4 separate regions of the Homo sapiens genome follow, and all the other regions are reported to be linked to region 1. The links are microRNA targets in miRTarBase. Many come from high-throughput screens and were not tested one by one. Region 1 holds a microRNA gene; each other region holds the end of a gene's coding sequence.

Region 1 (4,871 bases):
TCTGGGATTTGTTTTCTAGTATTTTAGCAAAAAAGAGGGAAGAAGGAGAGAGGACCAGAGGGAGGAGGAAGAAGAAAATATAGAGAAAGCATGTGTTGTGAAGCCTTAATGATTGCAGAATCTGCACTGATGGATTAATGGAGGTTCTTTATACTGTTCTCTCTCCTTTACATATGTTTATGAATTTTCTTAATAAAAAGCTGATAAAGCAAGATATAGAATAGTATATGGAGGGTGAATTGTATAGCATATAATTATATTTCAATAAAGCTATTATTTTGTAAAAAGAATGCTATATAGAGTTTGCTACCTTTGGAAAGATAAATGTATCCTACATTACATACAATATAAACAAAGATATATTGTAATACGTACAATAAAAACAAACAAAAAAACCCTAAAAAAAATGGCAGCCTCTACTGAGGTTAACACTGAGAGACAGAAGTGGAAATGGTGACTCACTTCCTTGTGTATCCTTCTAATGTCTTAGAAGTCTGTATTATGTGTTTGTATTATCTATCCAAAAATTTGAATCAGAAAATTTATAACTGATGGGGAAGCATTTCACAGCATCTCAAGAATCACAGCAAAAATGTTTTAGATTTGGTAAACGTGGTGTCCCTCAATGAAATGGCTGCAATCAAAGGTTCTCAAATCAGTGACTCCAGAGAGCAAAGCAAGGACTGAGGGACTTGGTGGCTGCTCTCATGGGAAATGCAACACTGCCAGTCACTGGTGCGGCCACTGGGAGTCTGCACTGACTGGACACCCTCTGGTAGAGCCTTGGCCCCAAGGCGACTGGTGATTCCCTTCACTCATTCAGCCCCACAGAAACATATAAAATAGTTGCTCAAACCAGTGTATAACATGGCTACATTTTCAAATTGGCACTCGCTCTACTCCACCAATCAACAATATTGAAATTGAAATCAAAAGTGAAAAGTAAAGTCAGTTGCTCTCTCCCAAAGGGATTCTGATGCCTGTGAAAAGACCTGCTGACCTGCTGGCTCACTCCAGCAAAAAGCACAAGAAGCCAGCTCTGCGGAAAGTAGGGGAAAGGGCATCTATTGCTCTGTGGGGCAAGGGTTGTTACCAGCTGACCTTTGAGAGCCCATGAGTACAGCCAACTACACACATATTGGTCTTGGGGCTTGTTTCATTACTTGGAAAAATTCCCTTTAAAGGTTAATGTCAAGAAATAAACTCTGTTACATTGAGTCCCATGACTCAAGTGGACTTTGAAAAAACATCTCTGGAATGCTCTTTTCTCTGAGTATCAGCCTCCCATTTAAACTCCGTCTGAACTGAGGGCTTCCAAAAAGGTATATCGCTGATCTGCAGGCCAGTAACATACTCTGTTCAGTGTTATGCAAGGAGAGTATGTTTTTTGTCAACCCAGAACTCAAAGGCAGGGCTAACACCCATGTATCATAAAGACTGCCTCATACACTAACATTCAACTATTCAACTGAGAGGGGGCTCAAGGGGCTTTCTGAGTACCTATAATGTTCTATTTCTTGATCTGGGTGATGGCTATACAGGGTTGCTTGTGTGTGTAAATTAAACTGTAAGCTTATAATTTGAGCCTTCTTCTGTATGTATGTCACCTCTATTAAAAGCTGTATTTATAAAAACTCCATTACAGATCTACTGTGGTTCTTTAATACTCTCCTATGACCTGTTCCATGCCTCAACTCCTCTTTCCTGTCTTTCTAATATACCTCAGTGTGAAGAGTTCTACTTTATACACCTTGTATTTCAGAAAAGGTTCAATTTTTTCCAAACGAATCTTGCAATGCTTCAAAACATGTTAATACAACTTTGTATGTCACCAGCTCCACCCCTTTTTGTGCCTGGGACTCTGGCTGGCCTTGGCTGTAGCAAGCTCTCTGTGCTTTGATAGCCCTGTACAATGCTGCTTGAACTCCATGCCACAAGGCAACACTGTAAAGAAGCTGAAAGCAGAGAGAATATCGAATATTGCAAGTCGAGCATTTTACCTGCAGTTATGTGCAAGGATGCTCAGACCTTTTCCTCACATTTCAGTGGACACATGGCAATAATGATGGTTAGAGAGACTATGACATGGGTTGTAATTGTATCCTGTTTCCACAGGTGAATGGTTTATCATTCATTATCATCCAGTGCCTTCTTAAAAATAAAGCATATATTCCTCCCCCTCCCCCAACACACACCCCTCCTGTTCTGTAAAGTGTGACTAGAGTAAAGGGAAGCTTTCCTAAGGATATGTAGTTGTGTAAGAGTCAACAGGTGTTGCACTGCCAAGATGATGTATATGAATGACACACAGCTTTCACCGGGTTGAGTAAGGCCTTACCTCATTCAACGCGCACATCCGAGCAATGGAGCCAATGTTGTTGGTGATGGTGACCAATGTGGCCCGGGCGAGGTCTTCCTTGCTGATGGAATCTCGCTTTTCTTTACTCATCATGTTGCCAAAGCTATGTTGGAAATATCAGCGAGAGTGTTCAAAATCGTCCTCAGGCAGGGCCCATCCTTCCACCAAAGTATTGTGGAAGGCTCTACGAGTAACTGTTCAAACTCAAGTGATCCAATTTTGCTACTATGGTTTATAAGCAGACAGAATTATAGTATGCATGGCTGACCGCCCTTTTCTTAATAGGGACAAAGTAGCATGTCCATTAATGGGGGGGGAAAATTAATGCCTCTAGATATCTGGACAAGAATGGAACAGGTGAAACTATTGCAGTTTTCTAGAACCTTCTTTCAAAGTTGCCTTATTTTAAGAACAAGCATCAAGAGCTAAACATCTCAGTGCTTCATCAAGGGCAGGAGATCAAGTCTGAGCTCTGATACAACAGGTATCTGCACCAGGCTGGTGGACTGACATTTTAAAACAACTTAGTGAATGGCCAGGGTGGAGAGGCTGCCTTGTGTTTAATCACTACTGCTCCTAGCTACTTAATCTCTACCTTGATGCTACAGCAGATCCTTGAAGGCCAAATCGTTCATAGTCTCCTCCGTAAATGTCCTTCACCAGTTTATCAACATTGGTGCTGTCGCCTTTAGCTGCCATTTCCAGAGCTTCTTCAAAGGTCTCACAACCAGTCAGCAAGCAACATAGGCCTAGGAATGTTCCACCTCCAAGACTGAAGGAATAATAAGGTTTATTTTTAAATTTTACTTTAAGATATGCCCATCCAAGTCCCCAACTACGTCAAGACTATTAATATGGGTGAATAAAAGCAGACGAACAAAGGGGCACTTGAATTAAAGTGCTAGGGTGCAACAGAGCTTTAGGGTAGACTGGATATGAAAAGAGGGCAGAGACTAAAAATAAACATCAAGGAAAATTTGCCCCTAAATTTGAGAACAAAACCAAAGAAAGACTCTCACTGATTTCTGTTGTGAGACCTTCAACTAGCCACTAACCTGAGTGCTTTGTTCAGCCTTCCCACCTATGAAATGGGGCCAAATCATGATCTCTTCTATTTGGGTGGTCTGAAAGCAGCAAATAACCAAGAAATAACTCCTATTAAAAAACCATATGCAGCTGAATATAAATACCTAGAAAAAGAATTTGTGTGTACATAAAGCATAGTTCAAAGCTATGAAGCCAAACCCTCTGATGACAAAACTGACCCAGGATTGTGCCAGGAGTGGCCTGTCTTAAAAGCTGTGTTTTACCTGACCTTGCTTCTCTAGCAGAGATAATCTCATTTAGCCTCCTTGAATATTTCTAGAAAGGAACCACTGATCTGATACTGAATTTTTTCCTAGTAGACTCTCCAGAAGGTTTTTAGTATATTACTTACCACTCCATAGTAAAAAACAGTAACAAAGGTCATAAAGTGGTTCCAATGGTTGAACTACATTTAAAAAGCTTTGACTTGTTTAGAGGGAAAGTTCCTCTAAAACAGCCTAGACAAAATTAGAAAGTAATTACAGTAGCCAAGAATGAACTCAATTGTGTATTAATATCAAAGTTACCTAATGGAAAGAAAAGCAGATTCAGAGTAAAGTATCGCCAGTGAACTCCCAGCAGGAAAAGGAGTATTGATTCCTAAAGCTAATGGACATAGGTTTTCCTATTTCTTTACCATGTAGAAGAGTAAATGAAGAAGAGCTGCTCACATCCATCTGTTCTGAAGCCCCAAAGAGCTACTAGCTTTGGAAATTCAATTTGTGTTTGAGCACTGGCTTTTACTTCTAAGAATAAAATCAATTTGGGATTAAGGTTATGTTTAATAATGTCAATAACTGTTAACAAGAAGGTACAAAACTGTAGATAGGTACATAGTTCTTGAAGATGCATCTAAAACGAAACTGACCGGGCGTGGTGGCTCATGCCTGTAATACCAGCACTTTGGGAGGCTGAGACAGGCAAATTACTTGAGGTCAGGAGTTTGAGACCAGCCTGGCCAACAAGGTGAAACTCTGTCTCCATTAAAAATACAAAAATTAGCCAGGTGTGGTGGCTGACACCTGTAATCCAAGCTACTCAGAAAACTGAGGAAGGAGAATTGCTTGAACCCAGGAGGTGGAGGTTGCAGTGAGCCGGGATTGTGCCATTGCACTCCAGCCTGGGCGACAGACACAGCGAGACTCCATCTCAAAAAATAATAAAATAAAATGAAATAGTGAAACTATGTGTAATATTCTTAAATTGTCATTTGTATAAAAGTATACTTGATTGAGGCCAGGCGTGGTGGCTTATGCCTGTAATCCCAGCACTTTTGCAGGCCAAGGTGGGTGGATCACCTGAGGTCAGGAGTTTGAGACCAGCCTGGTCAACACGGTGAAACCCTGTCTCTATTAAAAATACAAAAATTAGCCAGCCTTGGTGGCACGCGCCTGTAATCCTAGCTACTCTGGATGCTGAGGTGCGG
Region 2 (3,000 bases), not on the chromosome of region 1:
GAGGGAGGAACAGCATAACATATCTCACCCACAGACCCATGTGATGGGAGGGATGCCCAACAGTGCTGTAGGGTAAAGAAAAATCTACCTCTGTGAAGAGCAAGAACTAGTATTGAAGTGACTAGATGCCACAGTCCTGCTGTAAGAGCTAAGGAGCAGAGGTTCCTCTCTGTGTGGAGAGAGGGCGGGAAGGAGACCTCTAGTTGACTGCATAACCCAATCACATCTAATTCCATTTCTGCCCCCAGTTCTCTCTGCCCACCCATAGTCTATCCTTCAAGAACAACAGGCAGAAGCATTTTCTCACCCCCACCCCACATCTCCTTCCACTCCCCGACTGAAGGGGCCAGAGTACTGGCTGCCCTGAAATCAGAGCAGCAGCTAAAAATGGAGCCTTGAGGCGAGAGGTAGTTGTAATGACTACTGATGGGAACTCTTCAGAGAAGGAGGAATAGCTGCCAGGTCAGATCCCTGACTGCTTTGCCCTCTTTTAGCCTGGGAGATTTTAGGAGCAAAATCACTGAGGAAATGCGTTCAGTGCTTGAACATCATGGTGAGGCTCCTTGCCAAGGTCTAGAGTCGGAAGGCTATCTGTAGCTTTCCTTTGCCAAAGGTCAGTTTCCCAGCAGGCCCTCAAACACTTCTGTGTGAGAGGGAAAAGGGACGAAGAGGGGATAAACCACAGGGCAAAGAATTAGGAAGTGTTAGCAAATGCTACCATGTGGAACACTCAACTTTATTTGCTTTATTTATATATTTAACAATTCTAAAGTATTTACTTCTTGCTTTGACAAAAAATGAAAAATATAGGAGCACTGACTGACTCCTCTTTAGGAGAAAAGGGTTATATGTACAGCTATGGAGAGTTACGGTTCCTCCTTTAACAAAGGAAAATATTAATAAAAAAGTGCTTCATCGATCAAAAAAGAGCTAAGAGCTGCAAGCATTTATTCACACTGTACATCAGACCCAAGAAACCCGTATCATAACCTCTTGGCACCTGTCACTAGGAAATGCACAATCTTCAATTAGACCAACTTTTTCCCTACCTGCACGACTAGATGACACAGAATGTGGAAAAGAACTACACCCTGTTTCACCACGTTCAAACTGTGTTGCCACTGGAAGTCAGAGACGTGCTCAGATGCTCTGGGCTTTGCCTGGACTGAGAGCACCAGGGAAGCCTTCTGGGCCACGCCTTAACCACACCCAGGCATGCACAGAACCACCTTCCTGAGACACACCTTGCCCTTGGTCAGGGAACTGCTACCAAGGGGAAGAGGAATACAGGGCAGGGCCAGAGCTTAAGCATTCCCTGACCTTACCCCTAGTCCTCACCATGATCCACCCTGTCACCAGTTAGCAGCTTTCAGCAGAGTCAAGCATGGCCTCCCCAAGAGGGAGGGCAGGCACAAAACATGGATGCCAAGATTACAAAGCACAAACCTAACTCTTCTCCAACCTTCCCCACACCTACCTCCACAAATATTCTTGATTTAAGGCTGTTTTTGGACCATATCAAAGCTCACTGAGGAAAGGTGCCCTGAATCTCCTCAAGGCCATGTCACTTCTCTAAGGAACCCTACGAAGTCACCAAGTGGCCCTTCACTGCTGGCCAGCAGCCAGACAAGTGCCCACTCAGACAGCCAGGAGTGGCAAAGGGGGACTGCTCAGCAGTTATTCCTGTCCCAAGAAGAGAAGAGGAGAAAGGCTGATTGTATGGGACCTGCTCCCTTTTCCAGGGGCTTGTAACTCTAAAGGCTGATTCTACCCCTTAAAGGGAAGATCCATGATTGGTTTGGTTTGGGAACGGGGGATTTCTGGAACCCTGAGTCTGGATTTCCCTGTGCTGGCTGAGGAAGAGATTGTTTAGGGGACCAGGCCCCAGAATGGGGACCCAGGTGTGTCTGGGCTCAGGGCAGGCTTTGGCCTTGACTGCATAAACATTTTGACCAGTCTGTACTCATGCCTGAGGGTGGGAAGTGCTACACAGCCTGGCCCAGGAAAGCAGCCCCCTGAAAGTAAAAGGAGCCCAAGACAATCTGGGTCAAGTTAAAAATGGGATCCCACGGGGGACAACATGACGGCTACCCACTCCCAGCCCCTCGCCTGCCTCAAAGGAGCATCCACTTTCCTTTCCCAAAGAGGCGCCTAAGGGGATGCCATTTACCGTGTGCCTCTCCCTCCAAACATCAGCCTCATTTATCCATCTGTGAGGGGACTGGCTCAGCTCCTCGCAGGAGGGAGATGATGCCCAGGGCAGTGCTCTTGGGGAATATGCTTCCAGCCTCCCCAGCAGCAAAGGGTTCCCAACCAGCTCTGATGTGGCGGTGGCGTGAGGAATGGTTGCATGTTAGCACTGGCTTTCTTCCCTGCTCACGGTCTCAGATCTCCATACTCCTGGCTCTGACCACCATCCTCCCACCCGGAAGAAACAAGCCATCCCTCAGTGTCACGTGACAGCAGGCAGCTCGGCAGTTACAGTGGGCCTGGCAACCCTTGGTCTTCCATCAAAAAAAAAAAAAATTAAGACAACCAAGGGAAAGTTTCCTTTTTTGAAGGCAGAGGAGGAGGATGGAAAAGGTAGGGAGGGAGTAGGGGGACAGGAAAGAAAAATCAATCTACAATCCAGTGGTGCATCCCAAATCTGTCACTCTGTACAGGTGGTTCCACGCTCCCATTCCAAAGTGCACGGGCCTCTCGGTCTGCCCAGGTTGAGTGGGCCTGTCATAGGAACAGCAGCTTGGCCACTGCCCACCCAGGTCACTGAGCTTCAGTTGGAAGTGGCAGCAATGGGCTTATCCAGTTCAAGGTCAATGCTGGAGCTTGTGGGATGTAGGCTGCTATAGCAAGACTTGCATACTCGACTGGGTTCAAAGAGCTGCTGGCTGGGAACTGGAACCTTCTGGTTACAACAACTGGAGCAGAATACGTTCCCACAATTCCTTGAGATGAGAAGAAACAGAACAATGTTAGTTTTGGCCAGCAGGTATGCGGAGG
Region 3 (4,871 bases), not on the chromosome of region 1:
GTGGGAGGCCCCGTCTATGGGTCTCTGTTTACGGTTGTCCAGGATGGCATCTGGAGGCCTGGCCCAGCATGGGAGCCACACAGTGCCAGGGGCACCGAACCCGTGTCCCATAGTGTCTAAACTCAGGCGCAGGCACAGGCTCCCCCTGCAGCCCCTCCCCGTGCAGCTTCGCTTCCAAGCGTCACTGTCACGGCTCCTTTCCTTCCCCAGCTCTGACCCAGGACTCTGCCCAGTGGACCACAGTGCTAAGAACCTGGCCTGGGCCTTCCCCTGGCCTCGGCTCCTCAGTTGCCCCAGGTGGGGCCTTGTTGGGTCCTGGTAGCCCCAGAGATCACTAGTAATGTCCAGGCTGTGACTGGGGCATTTCACCCTGACTTTACGGGGACAGCCCCAGCTGCCATGCTGGGGCCAGGGTGGCAGTGGCAGGAGGAGGTGGTGGTTAGTGACCAGCAGAGCCCTGACCGCCTCCTGCTGTGGAGACGGCCCCAGCCCCACTGTCCTCTGTGGCTCTGGTGTGTGGGCACCCCGCCCAGGCGGTCGTCCAGCGGGGTGTGAAAGAGCCTTGTCAACTGCCCAGGAAACCAGGGCCAGTGTGGTCCAGCCTTGCACAAGGCTCCGTGCACACGGGGCACACAGGCCGGAGGGGTACAGGCCCCACCTCCCCGCCACCAGGCTCAGGGCCTCTTGGCAGCTGCGGCAGAGCCCGTCTGGGAGCTGCCCCCGAGGCTTCTGTGCCTGAGAGGGGACCCAGGCCACCTTTTGTGTTCCACAGGGCAGCTCTCTGGCGTGCGGCTGGCTGCGCGGGGTTTAGAGCAGGAGCTGAGTGGCCGCCGGGCTGGGTGGCGGCTGGGGTGAGCTGGTGCCATGCTGGGTCGTCGCCGTGGCACCCATCTGGGGCTGCCGCGCCCCACTCTGCTGCAGGCCTCTGCCGGCTCAGGCTCTCGGCTCTCGGCTCTCGGCTCTCCTCTGTGTGCACCTATTTTGGTTGCCCGTGGAGGGAGCCGTCTCTCATGTAAGGAGTGAGTCTGCAGGGCTTGGGAGTTGCCGCCGCGTTTCTCAGCCTTGGCGGCAGCCCCATCAGCCCCAGACTTGCTGGCTGGGTGACACCTCAACGGCAGACCCCACAGTGGGCGCTGCCAGGGCTCTGGGATGCACGTGGCCACGAGGAGGGCCCGGGGCAGCCTCTCCCCTCCTGCCGGAAGTTTCCGAGGCCCCAGTACTCAGTCCCGTGGTGGCCCCAGGCCTCTGCCATTCATTTCGGTGTCTGACGTTTCCGGGTGTTGAGGGGCTGAGGGGTCCGGGGGTTCCTGCCTGCTGATCTGTGGTCTCCATTCTTTCAGCGAGGAAGAAAGGACCCGGTTTCAGGAGCTGCTGGCCAGTCCGGCCTACAGAGCCAGCCCCCTGGTGGCCATCGGGCAGACGCTGGCCCGGCAGATGCAGCTGGAAGATGGCGGCCAGCTCTGACCAGGGCAGCGGGCATGCCACAACTCCTCAGGACACATGTGGGCCAAGTAGAGAGCGCCGGCCCCTCAAGGACCATGGCCTGAGCCTGGTGGACGCCCTTCCCTCTGGTCGGTTGTGGGGCTCAATAAATGGCTCTGTGAACTTCCCCTGCACTGCCAGGGCCGTTCCCATGAGCTGCTTCCCTGATTCACAGGGCTGGGCACACCCTGGGACAGCTGCCCCCACTCTCCTCAGGACAACAAGCCACATCCCTCCACTGGGGGCCCCAGCCCCCACGCAGTCAGGGTGGACCGTGCACAGGGTTTGTGGGGACTGCAGTTGTGGAGGCCCCAAGTCCGTCCCTGAGCAGGCGCTGGTGCCCACAAGATAGTCTGCTGGCTGTGTTGGGAAGGAATTGTGCCTGGGTGTGGCCCCAGCTGTGCCACCAGCCGCCCTGATTTGCTTCAGCCTCAGTTCCTGCTGCGGCCCTGGTAGGATCCAGGAGCACTGAGGCCTGCAGGGGCTGCCGTGGGGGCTGGCTCAGGGCCTTCACCACCTGGGGGTCTGTTTCCCTTCCAGTCTCCCCTGCCATCCTCAGTGACCAGGGACACAGATGGCCCTGGCAAGGCCCCCGGCCTGCTCCTCGCCTGTGGGCTGCACCCCCCCTACCCCACCCGTTGCCCTCACCCTACCCAGCTGCTCCACACCCAGGCAGCCCACTGCCTTGCTCTGGGGGCGGAGAGCAGAGGGTCCTTCTGCAGGGAGGAGACGCGGAGTGGGCCCAGCCCTGAAGCTCTTGCTGACCCGGAAGTGAGAGAGGTCCTCCTTTGTTGCTGGAAGCCCTGGGATTTGGGGGTTGGTTTTTGGACTGTGAATCAGTGACTGATCAGTCCTTGTTTTCAGGTTGTGGAAAGCAAGGGGGTGGTGCGTCCCCAGGCCCCTGAGGCCCAGCTTGGCTCCCCCTGCCCGAGCTCCCCCCGTCCCAGGGCCCTGCAGGGCCTCGCTGGCCCATGTCCTGCAGCGGGGCTGGGCAGGCTGGATGTGGTGGTGTACCCCACTCAGAGTGTCTGGGAAGTGCAGAGCAGGACCACTCTCAGCTCCCAGGCGGGGGCCCAGCACCCTGAGCCTTCCCAGGCTGCCTGGGGTGGGGGTGGTCCCAGGGACTCTGGGGCCTCCTGGCTCCAGGGCATGTGGGTGGCCCCTATGCACAGCCCCTCTTGTTGTGAGCCCCCATGATCCGACCTCCTCTGGCCTTGCTGCCTGCTCAGGGTTCATAGCCCCAGCAGCCCCGCCAAGGATGCCTGGCGAGTGGGTGGCCGAGGCAAGTTGGAGCCTGTGTCCCTGCTGTTCAGTGTCCTGGCCCTTCCCTGACACGAGCAGACACGGCATCCACAGAGACAGCCCGGACACCCTCCAAGGCCCCGGCCGATGGGACAGACGGGCGTACAGGAGCCATAGGCAGCAGATCCCACGCTCCCTCGGCCGGGGCCAGCTTGGCTGCCCAGCCCCAGCTCCTTAGAGAACGGGCTTCTCGCTTCAGAGGAGCTGGTCACAAACCAGTGGTCGCGACAAAACCATTCCTGTGGTGGAGCGCGTGTGGGGCGCGTGTGGGGCGCGTGTGGGGCGCGTGTGGAGCGGGTGTGGGGCGCGTGTGGAACGTGTGTGGGGCGGGTGTGGGGCGGGTGTGGGGCGGGTGTGGGGCGCGTGTGGGGCGGGTGTGGGGCGCGTGTGGGGCGGGTGTGGGGCGCGTGTGGGGCGGGTGTGGGGCGCGTGTGGGGCGGGTGTGGGGCGCGTGTGGGGCGGGTGTGGGGCGCGTGTGGAACGTGTGTGGGGCGCGTGTGGAGCGGGTGTGGGGCGGGTGTGGGGCGCGTGTGGGGCGGGTGTGGGGCGCGTGTGGGGCGGGTGTGGGGCACGTGTGGAACGTGTGTGGAACGTGTGTGGGGCGCGTGTGGGGCGGGTGTGGGGCGCGTGTGGGGCGGGTGTGGAGCGCGTGAGGGGCGCGTGTGGGGCGGGTGTGGGGCGGGTGTGGGGCGCGTGTGGGGCGGATGTGGGGCGCGTGTTGGGAACAGCGTCCGGGATGCACAGAGCACAGCGCGGTGGGGAGGCGGCAGGGGCGGCTTCCACTTCCTCCAGCATCCCAATCCCACCGTCTGGGTTTCTTGTGAAAAACCTGGCCGGGCGCAGTGGCGCACACCTGTAGTCCCAGCACTTGGGGAGGCCAAGGCAGTCGTATCACTTGAGGCCAGGAGTTCAAGACCAGCCAACATAGTGAGACCCCATCTTGACAAAAAAATAGAAAAATTAGCCGGGTGTGGTGGTGCGTGCCTGTAGTCAGCTACTGGGGAGGCTGAGGTGGGAGGATTGCTTGAGCCTAGGAGGCCGTGGCTATAGTGAGCCAAGATTGCGCCACAGCACTCCCACCTGGGTGACAGGGTGATCCTCTCTCTAAAAAATAAAAACGTAAAAATGTTTTTTGCTTCCTGGTTTTGAAATGACTCTTGTCTGGTTGTGGCTCGCAGCCCCTCTTCTAGGGATCCTTGCGGGCTCAGGGGCCTCTAACTCCTCCCTGGGTAAGCAGCCCCCGGCGGTGCCTGAGAGTCGTGTGGAGGAGGGTGCCGCGGAAGGGAGGAGGATGCCGCGGAAGGGAGGAGGGTGCCGCGGAAGGGCGGAGGGTGCCGTGGAAGGACAGCGACAGGTACTTGGCCGGGCAGGAGTGGCAGCAGGTGTCCCATCGGCTGAGATGGATGCAGATTGTCCCAGGAAAGTAGCCCTTGATAGTATTTGCGGGGGTGCCACCCCAGCATTCTTTGCAGGTGCAGAGCCCAACCCTCAGCTAAGGCCGCAGCTGGGGCAGGGTCATCTTGTGACAGAAGGGCGTCCAAGTGTGGGGTTATCCGTGGCTGTCAGCTGAGCGCTCCTGGCCACCATTGAGAGGGAGGCTCCAGGCGGAGGATGGGGTGTGTGCATTCTCTGGACAGACACCTGGGGTAGAGCCCCTGAATCAGCAGATCAGAGAGGATGACTGTAGGAGCTTCAGGAGCAGGAACATGAATCCCTCGGTAATCGATTTAAACAAGTTCTACAGTTGACTCGGCTTTCATGCCTTTTAGACCCTGGGGCCCTCGGTGCATTTTTCCGAGTTAAAGGGTTAACACAGCAGATCAAAGCTTCCTGGGGCCTGGAGGTGCCTGGCGCTGGCCTGCAGGACTCTGAGAAGCTCTGGGCTGGGACCGTGGATGCCAGGCTCAAGGCCCGCAGACCTGGGCTGGGCACGTCCCGGGTGCCTCAGCCCCAGGCCCAGTGTTGGCATATGGGGGACTGTGGGGCACAATGGGAGACAGGAGAGGCAGTGGGAGGAGCCCCCCACCCTGCCAGTCCCGCAGGAAGGGCAGTGTCTGGTTGCAGGGGGTGTGGGGTGTTGGCCAAAG
Region 4 (4,871 bases), not on the chromosome of region 1:
TTGTAGCTAGTGCCTGGGCACAGGTGTTTTTCTTTTTGCAGTTTTACCTAGTGCTGGGAGTTCAGTTCTTTTTCCTCTAGAAAAATACCTCTGTGCTCCAGAGCCTAATTTTTCCCAGATGCATATTTAGCTCTAGGGAGAGGACTAGGAGGAAATCCCCCTCCCTTTAGCTGCCTGAACTGACTGAGGCCCACTCACTAGAGCCATGTTCAGTGCTACTGTGATTAGTAGTAATTAAATATGAACTGGTATTCTCAAGTAAGCATTCCTTTTGCTCTCTTTAAGACCTCACAGATTCTGACCTTAGATTCTGTGACAAACTGATACAGGAGCTGGGCTGGCTATGGCTTTACCACAACAAGTAGGTTTGCTTAAGAAATTACTAAACAATGGCTGGGCGTGGTGGCTCACTCCTGTAATCCCAGCACTTTGGGAGGCCGAGATGGGCGGATCACGAGGTCAGGAGATCGAGACCATCCTGGCTAACAGGGTGAAACCACGTCTCTACTAAAAATACAAAAAAATTAGCCAGGCGTAGTGGTGGGCGCCTGTAGTCCCAGCTACTTGGGAGGCTGAGGCAGGAGAATGGCGTGAACCCGGGAGGCGGAGCTTGCAGTGAGCCGAGATCACGCCACTGCACTCCAGCCTGGGCGACAGAGCGAGACTCCGTCTCAAAAAAAAAAAAGTTACTAAACAAGGCTGGGCGTGGTGGCTCACACCTGTAATCCCAGCACTTTGGGAGGCCAAGGAAGGTGGATCACCTGAGGTCAGGAGTTCGAGACCAGCCTGGCCAACATGGTGAAACCCCATCCCTACTAAAAATACAAAAATTAGCTGGGCGTGGGTGCCTGTAATCCCAGCTACTTCTGAGGCTGAGGCAGGAGAACCGCTTGAACCTGGGAGGCGGAGGTTGCAGTGAGCCAATGTGGCACCACTGGACTCCAGCCTGGGCAAGAGCAAGACTGTCTCAAAACAAAAACAACAAACAAACAAACAAAAAGAAAACACAAAAAACATTACTAAACAAGATTTCTAGAGGGAATTAACAAACCAGTGCTTATTTACCAATAAACTAATACGCTAATTGCAGGAACCCTGATTAAAGCAGGCCCCTGTTAACACAAGATTCTTAGGATATACTTGGAAACAGGTGCATTGGAAACCACTGTACTGAGAAGTTTATGGGCTCAAGACTGAATTGGAAGCTAGGCGTGGTCGCTCATGCCTGTAATCCCAGCACTCTGGGAGGCTGAGGTGGAAGGATGAGTTCAGGAGTTCGAGACCAGCCTGGGCAACACAGAGAGACGTGTCTTTAAAAAAGTAAAAAATGGGCTGAGTGCCTTGGCTCATGCCTGTAATCCCAGCACTTTGGGAAGCCAAGGCGGGTGGATCACTTCAGGCCAGGAGTTCAAGAACAGCCTGACCAACATGGCAAAACTCCATCTCTACTAAAAATACCAAAAAAATTAGCAGGGTGTGGTGGTGCACACCTGTAGTCCCAGCTACTCAGGAGGCTGATGTGTGAGAATCACTTGAACCTGGGAGGCGGAGTTTGCAGCGAGCCAAGATCGTGCCACTGCACTCCAGTGTGGGCAACAGAGATTCTGTCTCAAAAAAAAAAAAAAAAGACTGAATCAGAATTTTGGGAACTAGGGTACAAGAGGGAAGGGGAGGAAGGAGGAAATAGACCCCAGTGGTCACCTCAAGGACACCCAGCCCCAGTTAGGTAACTGATATTAAGCCCCACCAGAGAGATGAGCAGGCCTGGCCACCTGGCTTTGGGGCTTAGCTGGGGAAACCAAGGCAGGCAGGGACAGCTGAAAGGGTTGGATGTTGACCTGTAGTAATTTACAGAAGGTAGCAACACTGGCTTCATTTAACACACACACAATCTGAAAAATACTAAACATGGGAAGGCCAGGGGGCAGAGGCAGCCATTCTCACACACTGCTAACAGCAGTGTAACTTGACTCAGTTCTTTTGAAGGCTAATCCATACTGAGAGCCATAAATACTTCCTACACTTTGACCTACTCTCCTAAGGAAATAATTCAAAAGAAGAAAAACAAACCATTTACAAATATGTTTAATAGCAGCATTTCTTTAAAGAAAAACAAAGTTCAAATGCCCAATAATAATTATGTTTAACACTTGGTACACATATAAATAGACAAAAGGCTGCGGAGAACACTGGATTTAAATAAAGGTGTTATGGGTATAATTAACTATAATTTATTTTATGAATAAATAAGAAAAAAGTCCCTGGCTATAAAGGATAGTGGAGGTTTATTTCCCAATATTCTTCCATTTGGACTGAACCCCTGCCAACTAAGCAGACATCCCACTATTACACCAAAAAGACTGCTCTCCCTGCGAGCAATTACAATACATGACACCACTAGGCCCAATGGCTCAGAGGGAAGAGTGGCCTGTGGCTCTTCAATCTTTATCCAAACCTGGTTCTAGCTTCAGGAGCCTTTGGTCACCTGAGACTTTTTATTTATTAATTTTTATGAGACGGAGTATTGCTATGTTGCCCAGGCTGATTCTGAACTCCTGGGCTCAAGCAGTTCTCCCGCCTGGGCCTCCCAGAATGTTGGGATTACAGGCATGAGCCACCACACGCAGCCACCTGAGACTTTTTAAACAGCACCAGCACTTCTGGCTGGTTTGAACCTTAAATGCCACCACCCACCAGAGAGGAGGCTCTCACTAGATTCTAAATCTGTTATTTAATTACTTTTCAATTGAAAAACAAAACAGACAGAAGAAACTTATTAGAATAAGGCCACCTAGGAATGTTCTTAACTTTTCCATTCAGCTTTTGGCTGATATATGAAAATACAAATAAATACATCCTTTCCCCAGGTGCAAGGCTAAACCAGCAGCTCCAAGGGCTTGGTCTACAGTGCTCAGAAAGACACACTGCCTTAAAAGTCAGGCTAGTGCCCTAGCTCCGGTGGCCTCTGCAAATGAGGCCTTGACAGTCGTCAGTGGACAGACACATAGTATCCAGCACCAGGTCTTGGGCCTTCCTGCTTCCCAGAGTTTCACAGGTAGGACGCATGTGAGGGGAGCAGTCCGTACTTCTGTTGGAGGATGGCTGTAGTACTTTCCAGGGCACTGAGGAGGAAACAGGACAGTTACCAGTCTGACTTCTCAGAAGTCCCGAGCCCACCAGAGGCTGGTGAGCAGGGACATCGAAACTGGCTAGCCTTGTTAAGCCCTGTTCATCAACCCTTGATGAAACCTTTTGAATCCTAAGAAAGCCAGGAAACTTAGTCCCACTGCAACTACCACTTCTCCAAACCTGGCCCACACTCCTTCAGGGCAACATAGGAGGCACCATCTTTATCTTGTCAAAGCTTTTTTGCATCTCTCCAACCTCCCTCAAATTATTTCCCCACACCACAGGAAAGAGACTTACCAGCCTGGACGAATGATGCCAAACTTTCCGGGCACAGACAAATCAACCACAGTTGAGCCAAGGCGACACTCGGGGCTCTGGCCATCCCCAATTTGTCCCCCATCAATAACCAAGGACAACTGAGGCCAGAGATCCTGGAACTCCTGAGAAGAGGGAGAAGGAAGAGCATGGACACTATCCCTGGTGTATCCAATAATGTCAAACTGCACGCAGTCATCAAAGGCCATATAGTCTTAAAACAGAAGGCACTTTCCTCTAAGCAGAGAAAGGAGCTTCATTTAGTTAAGGTCAACTGTGCCAAAGACACTGTATTCTATGAGGTTTGGAGGCCTCCTGGGTTAGCACTCCAAGTAACACCTATCTAGGGTTTAAAGAAAATCTTGCTATGTCAAAAGGAAATTTCACACATTGCTTCAGTTAGGGAAATATAAGTACAATGAATGGAGTTCTGGGCAGAGATACGGGCTATAACTCTAGACTTTCCATCGTATCTCCGTGTGACTGCATGCAAGTTACTCTATCCAGGCCTACAAGACAAGTGGGCTGGACTAGATGATCCTATGTCCTCATTTCATTTGTTCTAATCTATGTAGCCAAGACAGGACTAGGATGATCTTTTCTTTGACCTGGCTTGCCGCAAAGATAAGAGAACAGGGTCAAGAGTCAAAAACTAGGTAAAAAGACCAGGCATGGTGGCTCACGCCTGTAATCTCAGCACTTTGGGAGGCTGGATCTCTTGAGGCCAGGAGTTTGAGACTAGCCTGGTCAACATAGTGAAACCCCATCTCTACTAAAAATACAAAAATTAGCCGGGCATGGTGGCACACGCCTGTAATCCCAGCTACTCACTCGGGAGGCTGAGGCAGGAGAACTGTTTGAACCCGGGAGATGGAGGTTGCAGTGAGCTGAGATGGTGCCACTGCACTCCAGCCTGGGCAAGAGAGTGAGACTGTCTCAAACAAAACAAAACAAAAAAAAACTAGGTAAAAATCTGGTCACTTAATGGCTGCGTAACCTGGAACAAGTGATTCCAGCTCCTTCTAGCTCTAGAACTATGCTCCTGGATCTCACTGCGACTCTGATCAGGGTAGGAAGAGTAGAACATGGTAGATTCTGCATGCCACCAGCACTCAGTCTTTGGGCTATGAGAAGGATACTCCCCCTAGAGCAGTGGACTGAATTGTTAACTGAGCTAGAGCTTCCCCAACCCCCCAAGGAAGACACTGCAGTGGCAGTTAGGCCTGGAAATCTGGGACAGGAAATCATAAATACCAGTTACTGTGTTGGACAGGTCAAATGATTGCTGACAAGGTAAAAACCTCCCCTCCCTGTGCCACATCCCGATTCTTGCTCCTGGGGTACAGCCACCAGGACCAAGTCAAACCTGCACTCTGAGAATGGGAAGGGATGCTGAACTCTCACTTTCTAAGAACCCTGAGCCCCAC

The links. Region 1 holds the annotated microRNA hsa-miR-107 (AGCAGCAUUGUACAGGGCUAUCA, at 1,898-1,920, opposite strand). A microRNA usually pairs through its seed, bases 2 to 8, with sites in the 3' UTR of a target mRNA and lowers its output. Matches are read on the target gene's strand: a 7mer-m8 pairs with bases 2 to 8, a 7mer-A1 pairs with bases 2 to 7 and ends in A, and an 8mer does both.
Region 2: the mRNA of MTMR3 is a reported target of hsa-miR-107. The part of its 3' UTR that is shown has no 7-base or 8-base seed match.
Region 3: miRTarBase lists SLX9 as a target of hsa-miR-107. The part of its 3' UTR that is shown has no 7-base or 8-base seed match.
Region 4: the mRNA of YRDC is a reported target of hsa-miR-107. Seed matches in the 3' UTR shown: 7mer-m8 at 2,092-2,098.

The regions. Positions count from the first base shown.
Region 1 is chr10:89,590,859-89,595,729 of GRCh38, forward strand. It overlaps MIR107 (microRNA 107), which reads right to left and starts at 1,969; the gene lies at 1,889-1,969. It overlaps PANK1 (pantothenate kinase 1), which reads right to left. Exons shown (of 7, transcript NM_148977.3): 4 at 2,955-3,131; 5 at 2,339-2,462.
Region 2 is chr22:30,025,575-30,028,574 of GRCh38, reverse strand. MTMR3 (myotubularin related protein 3) reads right to left here. Exons shown (of 20, transcript NM_021090.4): 20 at 1-2,945. The coding sequence ends at 2,774. All of the region lies in intron 3 of HORMAD2-AS1 (HORMAD2 and MTMR3 antisense RNA 1), which reads left to right. Among named protein-coding and RNA genes, the nearest start is that of MIR6818, 20 kb to the right of the region's middle.
Region 3 is chr21:44,975,340-44,980,210 of GRCh38, forward strand. SLX9 (SLX9 ribosome biogenesis factor) reads left to right here. Exons shown (of 6, transcript NM_058190.4): 6 at 1,341-1,634. The coding sequence ends at 1,464. Among named protein-coding and RNA genes, the nearest start is that of LINC00163, 16 kb to the right of the region's middle. RefSeq lists enhancers at 3,642-4,540, 4,541-4,871.
Region 4 is chr1:37,800,876-37,805,746 of GRCh38, forward strand. YRDC (yrdC N6-threonylcarbamoyltransferase domain containing) reads right to left here. Exons shown (of 5, transcript NM_024640.4): 4 at 3,427-3,569; 5 at 2,070-3,122. The coding sequence ends at 3,050. MANEAL (mannosidase endo-alpha like) reads left to right here. Exons shown (of 4, transcript NM_001113482.2): 4 at 1-258. Among named protein-coding and RNA genes, the nearest start is that of C1orf122, 4.5 kb to the right of the region's middle.